2 separate regions of the Homo sapiens genome follow, and region 1 is linked to region 2. The links come from fine-mapping of genetic effects on gene expression. A gene starts in region 2. The other region holds a variant in brackets. All regions are shown on one strand. Distances are between the middles of the regions.

Evidence for each region.
Region 1: its variant is fine-mapped to the expression of IFI30 in whole blood (TOPMed, PIP above 0.99).

The regions. Positions count from the first base shown.
Region 1 is chr19:18,188,563-18,200,169 of GRCh38, reverse strand. It overlaps MPV17L2 (MPV17 mitochondrial inner membrane protein like 2), which reads right to left and starts at 6,952. Exons shown (of 5, transcript NM_032683.3): 1 at 6,702-6,952; 2 at 6,136-6,306; 3 at 5,317-5,393; 4 at 5,084-5,212; 5 at 3,222-4,171. The coding sequence starts at 6,888. The coding sequence ends at 4,115. RAB3A (RAB3A, member RAS oncogene family) reads left to right here. Exons shown (of 5, transcript NM_002866.5): 4 at 1,321-1,445; 5 at 2,510-3,386. The coding sequence ends at 2,700. RefSeq lists an enhancer at 6,808-6,857 and a silencer at 7,248-7,427. The variant C/A (reference allele first, on the strand shown) is at 3,509.
Region 2 is chr19:18,169,704-18,181,059 of GRCh38, reverse strand. IFI30 (IFI30 lysosomal thiol reductase) reads right to left here and starts at 7,247. Exons shown (of 7, transcript NM_006332.5): 1 at 7,087-7,247; 2 at 5,838-6,020; 3 at 5,675-5,749; 4 at 5,363-5,455; 5 at 3,768-3,920; 6 at 3,296-3,349; 7 at 2,943-3,211. The coding sequence starts at 7,218. The coding sequence ends at 3,149. PIK3R2 (phosphoinositide-3-kinase regulatory subunit 2) reads right to left here. Exons shown (of 16, transcript NM_005027.4): 16 at 10,528-11,356. RefSeq lists enhancers at 6,020-6,685, 6,813-6,882, 9,930-10,149 and a silencer at 7,193-7,502.

The DNA.
Region 1 (11,607 bases), 19 kb before region 2:
CTGGGACTACAGGCATATACCACCACACCTGGCTAATTTTTTTGTATTTTTAGTTGAGATGGGGTTTCCTCATGTTGCCCAGGCTGGTCTTGAACTCCTTGGCTCAAGTGATCTGCCCACCTTGGCCTCCCAAAGTGCTGGGATTACAGGCGTGAGCCATCGCTTCTGGCCTTCCACACTCATTCTGGGGCCATTGTCTCTGAGCCAAACTTTCTTCAAAAAATAATAAATAAAACGTAGGGGTCAGAGAAGGATTTCAGATGGAAAAGTAAAACTATAACCATATAGAAACAAATATCTGCAAGTGTAGGGTGGAGAATATAGAGACTATAAGGAGAGTTGGCATGGCCGGGCACGGTGGCTCACACCTATAATCCCAGCACTTTGGGAGGCTGAGGCAGGTGGATCACCTGAGGTCGGGAGTTCGAGACCAGCCTGACCAAGATGGAGAAACCCCATCTCTACTAAGAATGCAAAAATTAGCCAGACGTGGTGGCGCACACCTGTAATCCCAGCTACTTGGGAGCCTGAGGCAGGAGAATCGCTCGAACCCGGGAGGTGGAGGTTGCAGTGAGCCAAGATTGCCATTGCACTCCAGCCTGGGCAACAAGAGCAAAACTCTGTCTCAAAAAAAAAAGGAGAGTTGGCATAGGTTAGAGATTGTAAACATTTCAATTTTCTGCTCAGAAGTAATAACTTTAAAAAAAAATTTCTGGGTTGGGCACAGTGGCTCATGCCTATAATCCCAGCACCTTGGGAGGCCGAGGTGGGTAGATCTTGAGCTCAGGAGTTCGAGTCCATCGTGGCCAACATAGTGAAACCCTGTCTCTACTAAAAGCACAAAAAATTACCAGGCATGGTGGCTCATGCCTATAGTCCCAGCTACTTAGGAGGCTGAGGCAGGAGAATCACTTCAACCTGGGAGGCGGAGATTGCAGTGAGCCTAGATCGCGCCACTGCACTCCAGCCTGGGCGACAGAGCAAGACTCTATCTCAAAAAAAGAAAATTTCTGGGCTGGGTGGCTCATGCCTGTAATTCCAGTACTTTGAGAAGCGAAGGCAGGCAGATACTCCAGCCTGGGCAACAGACCCAGACTCTATCTCAAAAAAAACCCCAAAACACAGAAACAATAATGGGTCAGTCGGGGGCTGGAGTGGGGTGAAAGCGGGGCACATTGGGGGAAAGGATGGTGGGGAGGATGGAGGGGCAAGCTTCTGGGTCTTTCTTCCTCGGACAAGGACACAGGCTCCACATCAGCCCGTCAGGGTGGAGCTGGGATCCTCCAAGCCCTGACCTGCCCCCATTGGTGCCTCCTATAGGTCCACCCAGATCAAGACCTACTCATGGGACAATGCCCAGGTGCTGCTGGTAGGAAACAAGTGTGACATGGAGGATGAGCGGGTGGTGTCATCAGAACGTGGCCGGCAGCTAGCTGACCACCTTGGTGAGTGCCCAGCTGGGCTGGAGACCCACAAGTCTAGAAAAAGGACACTAAGAGAGGGGAGGGCACACACCCAAGGTCTTACAGCTAAAGCCAGGTAATTCACACTTTCTGCAAACTAGCCTTCATCCAGGAGCCATTTGAGTTGGATCCTGAGGGATGTGTAGGAGTTTGCCATGCAGAAAGTTTAAGGATTTATTCTGACACTCACCGTCCAACGCTTTGTTGGGTGTTGCTGGGCTCAAGAGGCATCTAGGGGTGCCTCGAGGGACCCCTGAGGTAGAGGGAGGGACCTGGATGGGAGGAGCACATGAGAGGAGCCAGGCTTCCTGGAGTGGTGGGTAGTGAAGAAGGGTCTTTCAGGCAGAGGAAATAGCTTGGGCAAAGGCTTGCAGTGAGAAAGGTCCTGTGTGTTTTGGTAATAATTTCACAAGACTGGAACATGAGGGTCAGCTGGAGGAAATGTGGCCGATCACAGAGGGCCTCAACCATGTGCTGAGAGGCTGGGACTCTTTGGAGGGCAATAGGGAGTCACAGAGGGTGTGTGAGCAGGGGGAGGTCACAGCTGGATTTGAGTGTCAGAGCCTTCCAGGGCCAGTGCACGGGGCTGGGCTGGACGCTGCAGGGCATGTCTTGCCAGGTCCCTAAGGACAACGAGACACAATTTTAGGAAGGAAGGGCAGGAGGCCAGGTGCGCTGGCTCACACCTATAATCCCAGCAATTTGAGAGGTGGGGGTGGAGGATCACTTGAGCCCAGGAGGTCGAGACTGCAGTGAGCTATGATCACGCCACCATACTCCATCCTGGGCAGCAGAGCAAGGCCCTGTCTCAAAAAAAAAAAAAAAAAAAAAAAGCAGGAAATGCAAAGCTGACCCAGTTCCATGTTGCTTCTCTGTGGGATTTGTCAGTACCTTCAATAAGTTTCTTCTCTGTGGGATTTGTCAGTACCTTCAATAAGTTGCTTGGCACTGGGAATCTCCAGGTGTTCCCTTTCCTCAGAGAAGCATCTCTGGGAGTTGGCATAGGGCGTGGCCAGGGTCCTCATCCCTGCCTTCTCTGACCACAGGGTTCGAGTTCTTTGAGGCAAGCGCCAAGGACAACATTAACGTCAAGCAGACCTTTGAGCGCCTGGTGGATGTCATCTGCGAGAAGATGTCCGAGTCGTTGGACACGGCGGACCCTGCGGTCACAGGCGCCAAGCAGGGCCCACAGCTCAGTGACCAGCAGGTGCCACCGCACCAGGACTGCGCCTGCTGAGAGCCATCCCACTCCCTTTCCCCTCTTCCCTGTCTTCCCCACCTTCCCCCAACTACCCGGGCCTGACCCGGCCCCTACCAGCCACGGGCACAAGACCCCTGCTCCTGACTTAGCCCGTCACCCTTATTTATTATTGTAGCTATTTATTTATTTATTGAAGATGTCCCCCAGGGGCCCAGGCTCCCCTGCCCGCCCCAAGCCCTGCCCCTCCTGTACATATAGCCCTTTCCCCACTCAGCTGTGGTGTCTCGTGGCCCCGTGAACTCACCGCTCACCCTCCTGAACCCCCCCCCCCCGCCTTTTTTTAAAATTCACCCCCATCCACAGTTGTCAGTTGTGAAGAGGGGCCAGATGACACCCTAAAGCAGGCTGATCGGGCAATGGGAGGTGGCCAGGCCTGCCAGCCCCTCGGCTCTGCCGCGGTGGGCCGAGGCCGCTGTTGGGGGTTTCCCTGTGTGGACCATGGGGATCAGAGTCTGGCCTGCCAGGCTCCTCTCCCCGTTTTCTCTTTTGGTGGGGGGGTGTGCTGTGGGTATTCACCACCCTGGGACCCCCCCCCCCCCCGCCCACCAGACCTGTTCTGACCTCATGAGTGTCAAACGTGCCCCCCAGTTCCTTAGGAGATGTCATGACAACACTACACGCACCCAATAAAGCGAATGGACCATCCATGTGTGTCCCTGTGAGCACCGGGTCCTGCCCACCCTGGTTTTGATCATCCACAGCATTTTCTTTTGTTATTTTTATTTTTCAATATAAATAGAGACAGGGTCTTGCTATGTTGCCCAGGCTGGTCTCGAACACCTGG[C/A]CTCGAGCAATCCTTCCACCTCAGCCTCGGGAAGGGCTGAGATTACAGGTGGGAGCCACTGCGCCCAGCCAGCAGTTTCAGTTACATTATAGAGAGAGTTTAATGGCATTTCCACAGTTCAGGACCAGGGAAAGAAACACAGAGGCTGCCTGGCCCTATGTGAAACTTTTGGGGGCCGACTCCAGGCCTGAGCCTGCTCTGAGGGGATCAGTCATGTCCCCGCCTTAGTCCCAGGACCTGAGGGAGCTCTGGATTGGTGGCTTGGCCCAGAGCCAGGTGGATGGCAGTGTTGAGGGGCTGGTGCTTGAGACTGGTTGGCAGAGTGGGCCCTGTGCTGAGGATGGGACATCTTGGTCACAGGTCGCATGAGGTTCCTGCTGAGAAGGGCTAGGGGATGATCATCCATCTTCATGGGTGTGTTCCGGTTGAGGAAACTCAGTCCCAGAAGTGAGCTTGGAAAGGGCGGCTCAGCCCAATGCTCCGGAGCTGAAGTGGTGCTGGGACGTGGCTCAAGACCCGAGCTTGCTGCAGGAGCCCATTCCCCTTCTGTCAGAGGGGGTGGTCCGCCAGGAGACAGTCTTGCATCTGGTCCAGGAAGCAGACAGTTCAGTCTGCTCGGGTGTCCAGGGCCACACAGCCTGGGGGTGTCAGAGGAACTGGGCTCTGTCCACACAAGACAAGGCATCTGGTCAGAAGCCTGGCTCATCCCTCCCTGTCCCTCTACCTGCCCTTGGGCCAGAGGTCAGCCCTGCTCAACAGACTTGGCAGGGACCGGGCTGAGGTCACATCAGACAGCAGAGAAGGGTTGGGTCTTTTTGTTTGTTTGAGACGGAGTCTCGAACTGTCGCCCAGGCTGGAGTGCAGTGGCGCGATCTCGGCTCACTGCAAGCTTCGCTGCCCGGGTTCAGGCCATTCTCCGGTCTCAGCTTCCGGAGTAGCTGAGACTACAGGCGCCCGCCACCACGCCCGGCTAATTTTTTTTTTGTATTTTTAGTAGAGACAGGGTTTCACCATGTTAGCCAGGACGGTCTCGATCTCCTGACCTCGTGATCCGCCTGCCTCGGCCTCCCAAAGTGCTGGGATTACAGGCGTGAGCCACCGCGCCCGGCATGGGTCTTTTTTTTTTGAAACGGAGTCTCGCTCTGTCACCTAGGCTGGAGTGCAGTGGCATGATCTTGGCTCACTGCAGCCTCTGCCTCCTGGGTTCAAGCAATTCTCCTGCCTCAGCCTCTCAAGTAACTGGAATTACAGGTGCGTACCAGTAATTTTTTGTATTTTTAGTAGAGAAGGGGTTTCACCATATTGCCCAGTCTGCTCTCTAACTCCAATTTCAGGCGATCCACCCGCTTCGGCCTCCCAAAGTGCTGGGATTACAGGCATGAGCCACGGCGCTCAGCCACGGCTGGGTCTTAACTGCTAGTGAGGAGCTCTCCGCCAGCCCACTGTTGGGTGTGGGTTGTCAGGAGCACAGGAGACTCCCACCCTCCAGGGTGGCTGGCTACACTGCCACTTGGAGCTCACACGTGTAGCCCCCTGGGGAGTCCCCTGGGTGCCTGGTATGCCCTCCACACTCACCCGGTACTTCAAGTAGGACAGGTACGTGTCCCAGCCCAGCGTCAGGCCGTTGATGTAGGTGACTCGAAATTGGGGGGGCACGAAGAGGAAGTTCACGAACTGCGCAGCAGGCCACACGCACCAGTCTGCCTGCGGGGAGAGGCGGGGGATGAGGGGCGGGGCCAGAGCTGGGCGGGGGCGGAGCGGCCATCAGGGGGCGGGGCCGGACATGTGCAAGGGGCGGGTGCTCCCACCTTGTAGAATTCCCAGAACTTCTCCCGCAGCTCCTGGCAGCTCTCACCCACTGTCTGACCCTCCAGGCAGCCAAGGCCTGGGAAGCAAACCAAGAAATGAGAGTGTTAGAGGCCAGGAAGTACTGTTGAGACGACAAGATGGGCTGACGATGGAGGGGGCGGGGTTGGGCCCCTGAGAGCCCACGCCGCCCACCCCGGGCAGAGGGACAGGGACTTTCAGATGGGATGGACAGAGAATTAGGGTAGCTGGTGTAGAGACAAAACAGAGCAAGTCAGTCCCAGTGAGAGAAAGAGAGGTTATAAACATATAAACACGTGCCCCAATGGAGACACCCTGAAGTTGAGGGAGTTGTGTTACTTTTCCATCACAGACCAGGAAGCCGGGCTGGGAGGTGGAGAATGAGAGACTCCTCTATTAATACCGCTGTCTTTACCGAGCCTAGGGCTGGCACGGTTGCACCCCATTAAGTCTAGCCTCAATTTCTCTTCCTTCAGGCCTCAGAGCCTTTGCATTAGCTGTTCCCTCTGCCCGCTGGTTCCCTCTTCATGTCTCAACTGAGTGTGGTCCCCTTCTTTGGGAAATGCTCTCAACCTCCCGCCCAGGGCAGCCCCAACAGATACAGTCCTCGTCCCTCCTACACTCGCCAGCGTTCACATCGGCCGAGTCCGTCCTGTCCCCGCTGTGACCTGGCTCCTAGTCCAGGGCGACCCAAACAGGGGGCAAATTGGAAATGCACCTCTGCATCCTTCTTAACACAAAGCTGGCTCCACCCCTCCCGACCTATGAGAGGCAAAGCCTAGGCTTAGGAGGCTCCTTACCCAAGAAGTACCAGACGCCCAGCAATGGAGAGGCTACCAGCTGATCCACGAGGACCTTCTTGAGGACATTTGGGAAGCCTCGGAGGCCAGACGCAGGGAATAGGCGGTCCAGCGACAAGTACCAGTAGTGCAGGAAGGGACCCATGCTGCAGCCCACCGCAAACATGCTCGCTATAAGAGTGTAAGTCAGGGGGCTGGGTCGGGCCGGCAAGTTCCTCAGTCCATTCCCTCTCTCCCTCCCTGGCTAAGGCCTGGGTAAGCCCAATGCCATCCCGGAGCCTCAGCCTCACCGGGAAAACCGGAAGAGCCCACCCGTGCATTCTTCCACTACAAGCCCCACCAGGAGGCGCGGCTCCAGAGGCTCCTGGGTAGTGGGCAGAGACCTCCGGGGGTTGGGAGGTGATGGAGACCCAGAGCTGCGGGGAGACAGACACCCGGGGAGAGGCGCGGTCAGGGCAAGGGTCCTGCGGGGGACTGAGGCCACGGGTCAGGGGTCACGGCCCGCAGTCGGGTGTCGGGATCAAAGGTCGCCCGGGGTGAAGGACTAAGCAGCGTGGCGTCCTCACCGGAGCGCCGTGGGTCGAAAACCTGGCCGGGCCGGGCGCGGATCTCCCAGGACTGGCGCACGCCATCACCGGCCGCCATGAGCGCGCCGCAGCCCAGCGTGTTAGTGACGAGCAGCGCGCGGCCCTGGAATAGAAGCTGCCCCGCGGATAACAGGCGGCGTAGCCGGCGCCAGCCACCCCGCGCCATCGCCCTCAGGAACCAAGGAACCGGCGCGCCGCTCTGCTTTCGCCGCGCCGACCAGTCGCGAGTCACTGTCGATCCCAAATTGCCCGCCCCTCCGGCTCCCCGGCCAATCGCATAAGGATCTTCAGTCCGCAGGTCCGCCCCGAGCCGCGACGCGTTCACCAATCGCAGGCAGCCTCGGGGAGCCACATTGCCCGGCCCGAAGAGTATTGACCAATAAAAGGCAGGCGTTCTATCCCAAGGTCGAGCCCCCAACGACCTCCCGAGCTTCACGGACCAATCGGAAAAAAGAATTGCGTTACGTCCCGCATGCCGATTGGTAACGTTGCACTCTTGTTTCCCCGCCCCTTTCTGTGCCAGCCTATGGGAAACCGTCGCAGCCCCGTCCTACCGACACGCCCAGGACGGCACTGGCCAGTCGCAGACCGGCGTCACGCTGGCAAATCAGTGACCGTCGTCCCGCCTCCCGCGTTAGGGTTGGTCAATCTTAGGCAGTTACAACGCCTTCTGGCCTGGTTGCCCTACGTATTTCCAGATTCTCCTGGACTTAACCAGAAGGGATGTGATCTGTGGCCAGAAACAATTATATCCTAATTATACCGTTCCCGTAGGGAACAATTATTTTTTTTCTTTTTTTGAAATGGAGTCTCGCTCTGTCACCCAGGCTGGAGTGCGGTGGCGCGATCTCGGCTCACCGCAACCTCTCCCTCCCGGGTTCAAGCGATTCTCGTGTCGCAGCCTCCCAAACAGCTGGGATTACAGGCACGGGCCACCACGCCCAACTAATTTTGTATTTTTGGTCTAGACAGGGGTTTTGCCATGTTAGCCAGGCTGGTCTCGAACTCCTGACCTCAAGAGATCCACCCGCCTTGGCCTCCCAAGGTGCTGGGATGATGATAGGCGTGAACCACCGTAACTGGCTTAAAAAATGATTTTCAATGGAAATCCCTATGCATTCTCTACTAGAGTCGCAAACTACTGCCTGTGGGCTGTTAACTGTTGAAGGTGTGCAGGTTCTTGGCATCTTGAACAAAGAATTGGACAAAGTGCACAAACAAAGCAAGGAAAGAATGAAGCTTAACAAAAGCAGAGATTTATTGAAAACGAAAGTACACTCCGCAGGGTGGGAGCCAGTGGAGCATACGGACTCAAGAGACCTGTTTAAGAATTTTCTGGGGTTTAAATGCCCTCTAGAGGTTTTCACTGGTTACTTAATGTACGTCCTATGTAAATGAAGAGGATGAAGTAAAGTTACAAAGTCATTTACTGGATGTATGCCCTCTTTAAATGGAGAAGATATTTCCTGTCATAGCTGAATTGTTTCCATTTGATTTGGCCTTATGTTCCCTGCCTCCAGACCTATTCTCCTGCCTCAGGGCCAAATCCTGTCCCTGCCTGTTTTGTGCTGCTCATGATGAGCTAAAGGTGTTTCTTACATTTTTTAAATGGTCAGTCAAGAAGGTGGGGATTGGCCAGGCGCAGTGGCTCACGCCTGTAATCCCAAACAGTTTGGGAGGCGGAGGCAGCTGGATCACCTGAGGTCAGGAATTCAAAACCAGCCTGGCCAACATGGTAAAACCCCATCTCTATTAAAAATACAGAAATTAGCCAGGGGCGTGGTGGTGGGCGCCTGTAATCCCAGCCACTCGGGAGGCTGAGGCAGGGTAATCTCTTGAACCCGAGAGGTGGAGGTTGCAGTGAACCGAGATAGCTCCAGTCTGGGCCACAGAGCGAGACTGTCTCAAAAAAAAAAAAAAAAAAAAAAAAAAAAGGCTGTGCCTAGGGCCGTGGTCACTCACGTTTGGCTCAGAATTAACCTCTTTAAATATTTTACGGAGTTTCTTTTTTTTTTTTGAGAGAGTCTCGCTCTGTGGCCCAGGCTAGAGTGCAGTGGCGCGATCTTGGCTCACTGCAAGCTCCACCTCCCGGGTTCACGCCATTTTCCCGCCTCAGCCTGGCGAGTAGCTGGGACTACAGGTTCCCGCCACCAAACCCGGCTAATTTTTTATATTTTTAGTAGAGACAGGGTTTCACCGTGTTAGCCAGGATGGTCTCGATCTCCTGACCTCATGATCCGCCCGCCTCGGCCTCCCAAAGTGCTGGGATTACAGGCGTGAGCCACCGCGCCCGGCCCATATTTTACAGAGTTTCACTCTTTTTGTCAACAAATGGCATGATTGTGTTTCAATAAAGTTTTACTTATGGACACAAATTTGCATTTCATATAATTTTCAGGTCATAGAATAAGCCAAACGTCATTGAAACACAATCATGCCATTTGTTGGCCTGTAAAAAGTAAAACTGAAATATGGCTTTTTTTTTTTTTTGAGACGGAGTCTTACTCTGTTGCCCAGGCTGGAGTGCAGTGGCACAATATCAGCTCACAGCAACATTTGCCTTCCAGGTTCAAGCGATTCTCCTGCCTCAGCCTCATGAGTAGCTGGGATTACAGGCACCCGCCGCCATGCCTAGCTATTTTTTGTAGTTTTGTAGAGACGGGGTTTCACCATGTTACTCAGGCTGGTCTTGAACCCCTGATCTCAAATCCACCTGCCTCGGCCTCCCAAAGTGCTGGGATTACAAGAGTGAGCCACCATGCCCAGCCTACAATATGGGTTTTTACAACAAAAATTTGCCCAGTCAGAGGACACCCTTCATGGTTTTCTGATTTTTTTTTTGAGATAGAGCCTTCTTCCTTCCTTCCCCCAATTTAAAACTTTTATTTAAAGAAAGGTTTTGTTTTTTTTTCCTCTTTAGTAGAGACAGGGTCTCACTATGTTGCCCAGGCTAGCCTTGAACTGTACTGAAGCAATCCGCCCACTTTTGCATCCAAAAGTGCTGGAATTACAGGCATGAGTTACTGAGAATAGATAAAATGACATGTCCCCCTGGGCAATAGGAGAACAGTGAGTTTCGTAAAGTGGGACAAATAAACAGAACAATACAAAAAAAACCTGATCAATGCCGGGCGAGGTGGCTCAGGCCTGTAATCCCAGTACTTAGGGAGGCCAAGGCGTCCGAATCATGAGGCCAAGTGATTGAGACCAATCTGGTCAACACGGTGAAACACCGTTTCTACTAAAAATACAAAAATGAGCTGGGCACGGTGGCACACGCCTGTAGTCCCAGCTACTCAAGAGGCTGAGGCAGGAGAATCGCTTGAACCCGGGAGGTGGAGGTTGCAGTGAGCCGAGATCTCACCACTGCACTCCGGCCTGGCAACAGGGCGAGACTCCGTCTCAAAAAACAAACAAACAAACAAACAAACAAACAAACAAACCACTGGGTGTGGTGGCCCCCACCTGTGATTCCAGCTACTCCGGAGGGTGAGGCAGGGGAGTCGCTTGAACCCTGGAGGCAGAGGCTGCAGTGAGCCGAGATTGCGCCACCGCACTCCAGCCTGGGTGACAGAGCCAGACTGTCTCAAAAAAAAAAAAAAAGAAAAAGAAAGTGGGAGTTGAACAATGAGAACACATGGACACAGGGAGGGGAACATCACATTCCGGGACCTGTCAGAGGGTGGGATAGGGGAGGGATAGCATTAGGAGAAATAACTTCTTTTTTTTTTTTTTTTTTTTGAGACGGAGTCTCGCTCTGTCATCCAGGCTGGAGTGCAGTGGCGCGATCTCGGCTGGCTGCAAGCTCCGCCTCCCGGGTTCACGCCATTCTCCTGCCTCAGCCTCTCCGAGTAACTGGGACTACAGGCGCCCGCCACCACGCCCGTCTAATTTTTTGTATTTTTAGTAGAGACGGGGTTTCACCTTGGTCTCGATCTCCTGACCTCGTGATCAGCCCGCCTCGGCCTCCCAAAGTGCTGGGATTACAAGCGTGAGCCACCGCACCCGGCCAGCATTAGGAGAAATACCTAATGTAGATGACCGGTTGATGGGTGCAGCAAACCACCATGGCACGTGTATACATACCTATGTAACAAACCTGCACCTTCTGCACGTTCTGCACATGGATCCCAGAACTTAAAGTATAATAATAGTAAAAAAGAATTCAATGTAGATGTATGGATTTGGTTCTGGGTTCTCCATTCTGTTCCATTTATGTATGTGTCTATTTTTGTGCTGGTACTATGCTGTTTTTGTTACTGTAGATCTATAGTATAATTGAATGTTGGGTAATGGGATTCCTCCAGTTTTGTTCTGTTTGCTCAGGATAGTTTTGGCTATTCAAGGTCTTTTGTGATTTCATATAAATTTAGGACTGTTTTTTAGAACTGTTCTTTCTGTTTTGTGTGAAGAATGTCATTGGTATTGTATTTTGATGGAAATTGCATTGAATCTGTAGGTTGCTTTGTGTAGTATGGACATTTTGACAATATGGATTTTTCCAATCCATAACTACAGAATATCTTAAAAAATAATAATAATAATAAGGCCGGTGCGGTGGCTCACGCCTGTAATCCCAGCACTTTGGGAGGCCGAGGTGGGCGGATCATGAGGTCAGGAGATCGAGACCACAGTGAAACCCCGTCTCTACTAAAAATACAAAAAATTAGACGGGTGTGGTGGCGGGCGCCCGTAGTCCCAGTTACTCAGAGAGGCTGAGGCAGGAGAATGGCGTGAACCCGGGGAGGTGGAGGTTGCAGTGAGCCAAGATCGTGCCACTTGCACTCCAGCCTGGCGACAGAGCTAGACTCTATCTCAAAAAAAAAAAAAAAAAAAAAGAAAGAAAGAAAGAAAGAAAAAGAAAAACCTGATTAACTTCAGGTTA
Region 2 (11,356 bases):
GAGAAAGAAGAAATGCTCATTAAATGCCTGATTGCTCACACCATTTAGAGACCTAACTTAGATAGGTTCCCAACTCCCTCCTAAGCCACCACCTTCTAAAATGAGACACAAGGCTGGGTGCAGTGGCTCATACTTGTAATCCCAGCACTTTGGGAGGCCGAGGTAGGCAGATCACTTGAGGTCGGGAGTTGGAGACGATCCTGGCCAACATGGTGAAACCCCGTCTCTACTAAAAATACAAAATTGCTGGGCGCGGTGGCTCACGCCTGTAATCCCAGCACTTTGGGAGGCCGAGGCGGGCGGATCACCTGAGGTCAGGAGTTCGAGACCAGCCTCGACTTGGAGAAACCCCGTCTCTACTAAAAATACAACAAATTAGCCGGGCATGATGGTGCATGCCTGTAATCCCAGCTACTCGGGAGGCTGAGGCAGGAGAATTGCTTGAACCTGGGAGGCGGAGGTTGCAGTGAGCCGAGATCATGCCATTGCACTCCAGCCTGGTCAACAAGAGCAAAACTCCGTCTCAAAAAAAAAAAAAAAAATACAAAATTAGCTGGGTGTGGTGGCGCATGCCTGTAATTCCAGCTACTTGGGAGGCTGAGGCAAGAGAATCGCTCGAACTCCAGAGGTGGAGGTTGTGGTGAGCCAAGACCACGATCATGCCATTGCACTCCAGCCCGGGTAACAAGAGCGAAACTCCGTCTCAAAAAATAAATAAATAAATAAAATAAAATGAGATACAAGTGTGTAACCAAGCTAACCTATTCTCAGGACAAAGATACTGATTCGACAATATCTGGCATAGTGTGCTTATATTTATTCCTTTCTATTTGTTCTAATCTGTCTTTTTCTACCCCTTCTGTAGATGTGTTACTTCAGAACTTCTACCCTGAATTTCTCTCCACCACCAATTCAGCCAGGGAATGAGGAAGTTCAGGACGTGCCACCTCAAAACATGCCACCTTTGCTACTTGATGATTTGTATTTATTTATTTATTTATTTTGAGATGGGGTCTCTCTCTGTTGCCCAGGCTGGAGAGCAGTGGCGTGATCTCGGCTCACTGCAACCCCTGCCTCCCGGGTTCAAGCCATTCTCCCATCTCAGCCTCTGGAGTAGCTGGGATTACAGGCGTGCACCACCACGCATGGCTAACTTTTGTATTTTTTAAATTTTTTTTTTTGAGACAGAGTCTTGCTCTGTCGCCCAGGCTGGAGTACAGTGGCATGATCTTGGCTCACTGCAAGCTCCGCCTCCCAGGTTCACGCCATTTTCCTGCCTCAGCCTCCCGAGTAGCTGGGACTACAGGTGCCTGCCACCACGCCCAGCTAGTTTTTTGTATTTTTAGTAGAGACGGGGTTTCACCGTGTTAGCCAGGATGGACTTGATCTCCTGACCTTGTGATCCACCCGCCTCGGCCTCCCAAAGTGCTGAGATTACAGGCGTGAGCCACCGCGCCTGACCAACTTTTGTATTTTTTAGTAGAGACAGGGTTTTGCCATGTTTGCCAGGCTGGTCTCAAACTTCTGACCTTAGGTGATCTGCCTGCCTGGGCCTCCCAAAGTGCTGGGATTACAGGTGTGAGACACCGCATCCAGCCTAATTTTTGTATTTTTAGTAGAGACAGGGTTTCGCCATGTTGGCCAGGCTGGTCTTGAACTCCTGACCTCAAGTGATCCACCCACCTCAGCCTCCCAAAGTGCTGTGATTACAGGTTTGAGCCACCGCGCACAGCCGGGGTATTCTTTTTCACTTTTCCTGTTCTACTCTTTGGAATCAAGTTACTCAATCTAGTTCACTGTCAAGGTGGTTGTAGGGCCCGGCACGCTGGCTCACGTCTATAATCGCAGCACTTCAGGATCCTCAAGAAGGATCGCTTGAGCCCACGAGTTTGAGACCAGCCTGGGCAACACAGCTAGACTCCATCTCAAAATAAAGAGAAACAAAGATATTTGTAGGGAGTGGAATTAAGCCTCACTTCCTCGAAGGAAGAATATATACATCTATGATTTGACCAGTCCATCAGTAGGAAAAAATACAACACTGAACATGTTCTTTCCCTTCTTTTTCTTTTAAAAGGCAGAGTCTTGGCTGGGTGTGGTGGCTTTCGCCTGTAATCCCAGCACTTTGGGAGGCCGAGACAGATGGATCATGAGGTCAGGAGTTCGAGACTAGCCTGACCAACATGGAAGAACCCTGTCTCTACTAAAAACACAAAATTAGCTGGGCGTGGTGGCATGTGTCTGTAATCCCAGCTACTCAGGAGGCTGAGGCAGGAGAATCGCTTGAACTGAAGAGGCAGAGGTTGTGGTGAACCGAGATCACGCGTTTCCCTTCAGCCTGGGCAACAAGAGCGAAACTCCGTCTCAAAAAAAAAAAAAAAAAAAAAAAAAAAAAGAGGCAGAGTCTTGCTCTCTGGCCCAGGCTGCAGTGCAGTGGTGTAATTATGGCTCACTGCAGCCTTGACCTCCTGTGCTCAAGTGATCCTCCTGCCTCAGCCTCCCGAGTACCACAGTTGCTCGCTGCCATGTCCTGCTAATTCTTTTTATTTTCATGTTTTGTAAAGACAGGGTCTTGCTTTCATGCCAAAGCTGGTGTCAAACTCCTGTCCTCAAGCAATCCTCCTACCTTGACCTCCCAAAGTGCAGGAATTATAGACGTGAGCCACCTCACCCGGCCACAACCAGTCACTTTTTTAAAATTTTGAGATGGAATTTTGCTCTTGTCGCCCAGGCTGGAGCACAGTGGCGCGATTTCGGCTCACTGCAACCTCTGCCTGCCGGGTTCAAGCAATTCTCCTGCCTCAGCCTCCCAAGTAGCTGGGATTACAGGCGCCCGCCACCGCGCCTGGCTAATTTTTGTATTTTTAGTAGAGAGCGGGTTTTGCCAGGCCTGGGGAAGGGGGAATGGCTGACTTATCAAATTAATTACACCATCCAGAAGGGCTTATTAAACTAGTTTTACTTTAGCACCATTCTTAGTGGAGCAGGATTCTTGATCATGGGGTGGAATTTTGTGTATCTGGGCTTCATGGGATGCATAAAATTTTCCAGTTGGTAAGTAGCAGGTGCCGAGGGTCTGGATCAGAAAAAAAGGCAGGCAGCCGGGTTCCCACTCGCCTTCCATGAGCTCTCCGCAGCTCACCGGCCATCACTTGAAGCAAACACTCCTGAGGGAGCTGGTTGAGGAAGGGCAGACATCCGGCTTCTTGCCCTGGAGGTGAAGGCCATGAGTTGGGGTCCTGGAAGGAGACCCTACCCCCACCACCTGAATCCCACTGCTCCCCTCCCAGCTTACCTGGTACAACTGGCAGACAAGGGTAAGGAGCTGGGTCTGATCTTCCAAGGGTTTCTGCACAAAGCAAGACAGGGGTCGCATATTCCCAGCAGCTACCCCAACCCATGCACCCTGGTTCCAGCCCAGAAAGGGCTGCACATATTCCCAAGTCTGGCCCCCGCCTCCCGCCTCGCAAATCAGTGGCACATCTTTCCCAATGGGGGTGGCTAGGGATGTTTAATACTTCGAATTAATACATACTTTTTTTGCCTGATGGACTCCTACTCACCTTTCAAAACCCCAGCATCAATGCCCTCTTTCCCTATGCAAAGCTATCAAGTTTTGCTCTTGTTGCCCAGGCTGGAGTGCAGTGGCATGATCTCAGCTCACTGCAACCTCCGCCTGGGTTCCTTTATCTCTGGTCCCTCTGTCTTGTCCATCCCTGACTCCATGGGACTATGAGTGTCAAGCTGAGGGCTAAAAAGATTCTTACCCCATTGACGGTGACCCAGGGCACATACTCGTGTGGTGGCTGGAGAGCATCTGTCCGCTGGGCGTTGGCGTGCATGAGCTGCATGCCGCGGTCCCCCATTGCACACTCCATGATAGTGTCTGGCGACAGCCCTGGGGCGTAGAGCTGCAGGCACTGGGTGGGTGGGGAGCAGGGGGTTGCCTCAGCTTCCTCCCCGTTATCTCAACGGTCCCGCCCACCAGCCCTGAGCCAAGCCTGTTTCGTCACTGAGAAGAGGGTACAGTTGGCTTCACAGTGATGCGACAAAGCCCACAAACAGCAGGTGCTCAATACATGCTTGAGTGGAGGCCCCTAAGGCAGGGCTTGGGCTGCTCCTGCCTCCTAGCTCCCTTGGTTTCATCCCTAAGACCAGACCCACTGCCTCTGACCCCCATAGTATCTCACTTTACTCAGGACCTCCACACAGGCTGATCCCTCTGCCAGGAACACCCTTCATCCTCCTTCCACAGTGTCTCCTCAGTGCCCTCTCCTTGCCACTCTCTCAGCCCTGATCTAACCCTGCAGGACTAGGGTGTCACTAGGTGAGGCCTCTTGGGTGACCCGGATGTTTGATGAATGAATAAATGATTGGAGCCAATGAGTCACTTCTCTGGGAGTCATTCTTCACAATCCCCCGGGGAAGTAGGTGGGGTCTGTCCTATCATCTCCACATCCCATCATCTGTGTCTCTGCACATTCCTGCTCATCCTTCCATGCCCAGCTCAGAAATGCCTCCTCCAGTAAGTCCTCTGTGATCACTCATGCTCCTAAGAGACCTGCATTCATTCCCCTGATTCAGAGATGGAGGCTTCAAGAGGGGAGGCTGGGGCCGGGCGTGGTGGCTTACACCTGTAATCCTTTGGGAGGCTGGGACAGGCGGATAACTTGAGGTCAGGAGTTTGAGACCAGCCTGGCCAACATGGTGAACACTGTCTCTACTAAAAATACAAAAATTAGCCGGGCATGGTGGTGCACACCTGTAGTCCCAGCTACTGGGGAAGCTGAGGCAGGAGGATCACTTAAACTGAGGAGACAGTGGTTGCAGTCAGCCAAGATTGCACCACTGCACTCCAGCCTGGGCGACAGAGCAAAACCCTGTCTCAAAAAAAAAAAAAAAAAAAAAAAAAAAAAAAGGGCTGGGTGCGGTGGCTCACGCCTGTAATCCCAGCACTTTGGGAGGCCAAGGCAGGCGGATCACAAGGTCAGGAGTTCAAGACAAGCCTGACCAACATGGTGAAACCCTGTCTCTACTAAAAACACAAAAATTAGCTGGGCATGGTGGCACACAACTGTAATCCCAGCTACTCAGGAGGCTGAGGCTGGAGAATCACTTGAACCCTGGAGGTGGAGGTTGCAGTGAGCTGGGATTGCGCCACTGCATTCCAGCCTGGGCGACAGAGCGAGACTCTGTCTCAAGAAAAAATAAAAAAATAAATAAAATAAAGAAGGGTAGTTGTTTTCCTGGGCTGCACAGACAGCAGTGGTCAGGGCTAGGACTTGAATTTGGGTCTGCCTGGATGCAGGGAAGGTTACCACCCATGTCCCCCTCCTTGGGTGGAGTGAGGGGCGTCACTCACTAGTGGCAGACTTCTCTCCATGTCCTCAAACTCTTCCATGCAGACAATGGTCAGGAAGGCTAGCTCCATGTCAAGTTCATCCAACACGCAGGCCTGGGGTTTGGAGAGGGGGCAGGAGAGGGCATGAAGAGGGCCTAGGGTACCCTGACACCCTCTCGTAATAATCACCAGTACCCACCCAGGAGATAGGGAATAAAGATGTGATTAAATGGGAGCACACGAGGCAGAAGACAGAGCTGGCATCCTCGTATTTGCCTCCTGTACGTGGGACAGTTTTCCCCCACCCCAGTGTGGGGCCCTGGGGCCGCTCACCTCCACCTTGTTGAATTTGCACTCCTCTTCTCCATGCTGGCACTTGAACTCCCACCTGCCACTGACATTTTGTTCCTGCAAGGCAGCAGGGTGAGAGCCTGCTGGTAGGCTGGGTCCCCTGCTCCCCTGCCCACGTGCCTCAGTTTCCCCAGCGCCCACACACCTGTGCGTTTCCGTAGGGCACCAGCGTGACATTGAGGATCTCCATGACCAACAGCCATGTTGGGAAGAGCTCCCGGATCAGGAAGGCTCGGCAGCCACCGCACAGTGCTTCATAGTAGAGGGTCACATTGACAAGCGGTGCATTGGACTTCTTCAGGGGCCCCCGCAGGTATAGATTGCCTGTCTGTGGATTAGGAAGGCGTGGGAGGCAGGTGTAGCCCTGGGCAGTTCCCCACTTCTCTCAACCCCACTTGGTAGTCTTGTAGAAAGGGGGCTGTGATACGCAATTCATCTTGCACGCCTTCCAGAACTTGCCAGGTGGAATCTTGACTTTGAGACTTTTTTTTTTTTTTTTGAGATGGAGTCTCACTGTCGCTAGGCTGGTGTGCTGCGGCACGATCTCGGCTCACTGCAACACCCGACTCCCTGGTTCAAGCAATTGTCCTGCCTCAGCCTCCTGAGTAGCTGGGATTATAGGCACATGCCACCACACCCAGCTAATTTTTGTATTTTTAGTAGAGACAGGGTTTCTCCATGTAGGCCAGAATGGTCTCGAACTCCTGACCTCGTGATCTGCCTGCCTCAGACTTCCAAAGTGTTGGGATTACAGGCATGAGCCACCGCCTCCGGCCTTGGCCCATGCTCATTTCTTGTCACTTCACCTGGAGACCTTGCCTCTGAGCTGAGCAAGGGATCCACGTGAACCCTTTCCAAGTCCGACTGAATAGAGGCGGCACCTAATAGGTGCTGACTTCCGGCTTCAGCTGAGGGGTGGCGGGTGGCCCATGTCGCTGGAGCGGTGAGCAAGTCGCTCAGCCTCTAGGGCATCTGCCTAATAGGTCCCAAAGACACGCGAGCCCTGCCCTGGCTGGAATGAATGCATCAAGGGTAGCAGCAAGAATGCATGCCGGCGGCCCTTGGCCAGCTGCTGAACTTGTGCCCTGGGCCACAAAAGGAGACCCCAGCTCCTGCCCCAAAAGTACACAGTAGGCGCTCATTGAACCCTTGGGCGGGACTAGGCGGGTGGAGGCAGCTGCGCCTCTCAGATGCGGGATGCGAAAGCGAAACGGCACGGAGGGAGTGTGGCCGCAGCGCCGGGAACTGAACAGGGTTTTTCCAGGAACCCGGCAGGGACAGCGTCCCCTCGGGGCCCTGGTCTTCCCCTGTGAAGTCTGGGGAGAAAGAAGGAGCCGCGTGCCCCGACAGGGCGCCTGTTCCCTCCAGCCTGCCCGCCCTGTCGCCGTCCCTACCTTGTAGTTAACTGGTGGCCCATTCCCAAAGAAGTCTAACGCTTGCAGAGGGGACGCCTGCACCGCCGCCGTGGGGACGTCCAGCAGCAGCAGCAGCGGTGGCAGGAACAGCAGAAGTGGCGACAGGGTCATCGCAGCAGGGGCAAAGGTGTGGCGACTGCAGCGGCTGCCTGGGAAATAAGCGCCTTTAACCAGGCGGCGGTCCCGCCCCTAACCCGGGCCCGCCTCCCGATGCCCACGCCCCTCGGGTCCCGGGCCAGCGTCTCTCCCTCCTCCACTCCTTCCTCTGAGTGTCCCACCCCCACCCCTGCCAGGTGCTGGGTCCCCAGTCACGAGGCCATTGGGCCCCTTGGCAATCAGCCCTGCCCAGGCACGTGAGCCCTGGCGCAAGACTACCTTTAGGGGAGGTGAGGTGGGGCCTTTGAGACAGACACAGGCTGAGAGGAATGGTGGTGTCTCCACGCACCCCTAGACCTTCTAGGGGCGGCTAGGGGACTTGAGGCCCGAGACCCACTCTCAGAGTGGGCCTGTGACCTAACAGGGGTGACGTCGGATGGAGGCTGGGGATGGGATGGAGGCCGGGGTTTTGGGGGAGTAACTGAAATATTCAGGCCCCCGAGAGTGGGCAAGGCCTGTGTGGCCAGGTCTCCTCCCTCCAGTCTCGCCCGTGACCTCCCTCACACCCAACCCCCACATCCTGCCCCTCAACCCTTCCCCCCTCAAACTCCTGACCCCGACGCTCCAGACCCCTCACCGTGGTCCCGTGGGACTGACTCAGGCTTGACCACAGCCACGCCGGAAAGCAGAAGCTGGCGCAGGGAGTGGCGTGTCATTTCTCTAGGGTACCCACCCAGCCCCACTTCTGGCTTGGGGTGAAGAGAACTGGCCTTCCTTCTTTTCATCGTTCAAGGCTTGTGGGGGGTGGGGGGCAACCTGGCCTTCAAGGGACGCCCATGGGGGAGAGAGGCAGCCTGTGCTGTCTGGGATAGGGGTGGGGTGGCTTGGAGTCCACCTGGCTTTGGATTTGAGTGACAGAGCCTCAGCTTTCCCTTCTGTGTAATGGGGAGAAGGATAAGGTTTGGGGAACAAGAGTCACCATGGAGGGCTCAGAGGCAGGTGGGGGAGAGTTGTCCCAGGCTGGGGCTTCTGGATGGCATGGTCAGGCCTTGGTGCCTACACAGGACAGTGGCCCCAACAGTGAAGGCAGAGAGAATAGCCTGGAAAAAAGGCCCAGATGGAGGCTGGAGTGTTGGGGGAATAACTGAGACATTCCAACCCTGCCAGGCCTTACATTCAGGGCAAGACACATCGGATCCTAGGGAAGAAAATGTCCCACACCCAGCTGGAAGATATACCTGAGTCCCCAGCTGTGCCCCCCTCTAGTTGTGGGGAAGACCCTGGCCACACACACAGTAGCTGGTTTGGGAGCCGGAGCTTCTCTGAAGTCCCAGTGGCTGGATGGTCCCCGAGCCCATCCCTCAGACGACCAAACCGTTGGCAAAGGCTCCCCAAGACTCACCACCCCAACTTTGGTGCTTACCCTATGCCGGGTGGGATTGAAGAAATAACCATAAATATAATTGCTACAATTTTTCCAGTAGTTACCAGGCACCAGCCCTATTGGAAGAAATCATAAATGTAACCCTACAATGTATTGCTCTCTGGCTTGGTGCCAGGCATAGAGTGGGCCTACAACCCATTTTATCATTGAACCCTCAGAAGCATCCAGTTGGGGCTGGGGGTAGGTGCTACTGACTCCAGCTGGTAACAAATAAATGGCTGATCAGAGAGGGAAGGCTATTTTGCCAAGGACACACAGCCAGTGGTTGAGTGTTTTTAGAGACCACACGGGATATTCTCTTCCACCCCCAGCTCAGCATAGCTGGGATCATAAAGATGGCAACCTTTCTCCTGTGAGCACCTATGCAGTGAGAGGCACAATCTGGGCTGGAGTTATTTATGGGTTATCTCCAGACAGGACACATGGCAGGGACAGTGCCTGGCAAGGCTAGGGGGCTCTGAGGCTAAGGGAGGCAGGTCCTGTCCCAAGGTCCCAGCAGTAGACTGGGTCAGAGTGGAGGTTTCTTTCTGCACTTGCCCCAGGTTCAGCCTTGTTGGGCCTTGAGAGGTGGCTGTACAAAACAGACAAGGACAGTGAGGCCCCAGGGTTGGGGAGGGCTGAAGGGACAATGACGTCGCAGTGGGGGTGTGGATTCTGGGTGTGATGGGGAGGGTGGTAAACAGGAGTCCAAGTCAAAGACGCCATGAGGCCACGCGTGGTGGCTTACGCGACTCAGGGAGGCTGAGGTGGGAGGATCACTAGAGGCCAGGAGTTTGAGACCCACCTGGAAAAGGGCAAGACCCTTTTTTTTTTTTTTTTTCTTGAGACAGAGTCTCACTCTGTCACCCAGGCTGGAGAACAGTGGCACGATCTTGGCTTGGTGCAGCGTTGACCTCCCAGGTTCATCTGATCTTCCTATCTCAGCCTCCCAAGTAGCTGGGATTACAGGCATGCGCCACCATGTCTGGCTAATTTTTTTTTGTATTTTTAGTGGAGACCAGGTTTTACCATGTTGGCCAGGCTGGTCTCAAACTCCTGACCTCAAGTGATCTGCCTGCCTTGGCTTCCCCAAGTGCTGGAATTACAGGTGTGAGCCACTGCACTCGGCAAGATCTTGTTTCTAAAAAAATTTAAAAATAATTAGCTGGACATGGTGACACACACCCGTAATCCAGTGACTCTAAAGGCTGAGATGAGAGGACTGCTTGAGGCTGGGAACCAGGAGCTTGAGGCTGTGAGCCGCGAGCTGTGTTCGCACAACTGCACTCCAGCCTGGGTGACAGAGTGAGAGACCTTGACTCTTTAAAAAGAAACACAAAAAACCCCACAGGGCTTTTGCTCAGCGTCTCCTGGGACCCGGCGGGCTGTGCATGGGAGTGGGTGAGGAGAGGTCAGAGAAGAGCCTCCAATGCTGGCTGGAGGTGCCGACGACTTGAGAACATCAAAGACACGGGAGACTCCTCCCTGTGGCATGGGAGGGTTTTGACTTTTGACGCCACTTGGCAATGAATGAGGAAGCTGTGGATCAGGGAGGGGATACAACTTTCCCAAGGACACAGCTGATGGTTGCGACAGGATTCAAATTTGGGGGCGGTGGGCGGGGGAAGCAGCTTGGAAGCACTTGAGGGGCTGGATGGGGTCTGGGGTCCCCTGAGCAGTCGGGAGCTCAGGATTCGAATCTCTCTCCTGTATGACCTTGGGCACTGCCTCAACCTCTCCAGGCTTGAGCAGCTAAACTGGGGGAGGGAGGGGTTGTCGGGTCTCAGAGGGGCTTGGAGTTAAACCCACGGGTCCGACCTGCTGTGACCCCCGTAGACACCAGGGTCCCCGACACGCAGAGGTGGTACTGAAGCCCAGTCACTGACAACAGAATCACCCACGACGTTTGATGTTTTATATCATATCAATAACAACGTACCGTACAAAACCTGCCTCCCAGCTCGTGGGGCAGGCAGTGTGGTGGCCAAGGGCAGCGTAGAAAACCAGGGCTCTTGTCCCAAAAGAGGAGAGGAAAGAGGGTTTTGCAGTCAAGGAAAAACAGAATCAAAACCCAACATGATCGAAGAGAAGCCCTGAATCTGCATCAGAGGGAGGGGCCGTGGGCAGTGTCGCAACTTGGCCACTGCGGCGGCACCAGTACGGGGAGCTGTGATTCCTAGGAGGGGTTGGGGCCAGCTCACAAGTTTATTTATTTATTTTTTTGAGACGGAGGAGTCTCCCTCTGTTACCCAGGCTGGAGTGCAGTGGCACGATCTCTGCTCACTGCAACCTCCATCTCCTGGGTTCAAGAGATTCTCACGCCTCAGCCTCCCAAGTAGCTGGGATTACAGGCGGCCGCCACCACGCCCGGCTAATTTTTGTATTTTAGTAGATGCGGGGTTTTGCCATTTTGGCCAGGCTGGCCTCCAACTCCCGACCTCAAAAGATCCGCCCGTCTTGGCCTCCCAAAGTGCTGGGATTACAGGCATGAGCCACCGTGCCTGGCCTGCGAGTTTAATTATTTTTTCGGGGGTGGGTGAACTTCTCGCAGCGGCCCCCTTGTGGGGGTAACCCGGTGGCGGGTTTCACTTCGGGGTTTGGAGGGGAAGTTGGAGTCTGTGGGGCGGGTCCCGCCCGGCCCCGAATGTCACGGCCGAGGTTCTCGGAAGCAGCAGAGTGAAGTTCCTTCCTGCCCTGACCCCAGGTCTATGGCTTAAAAATCAGGGTGCC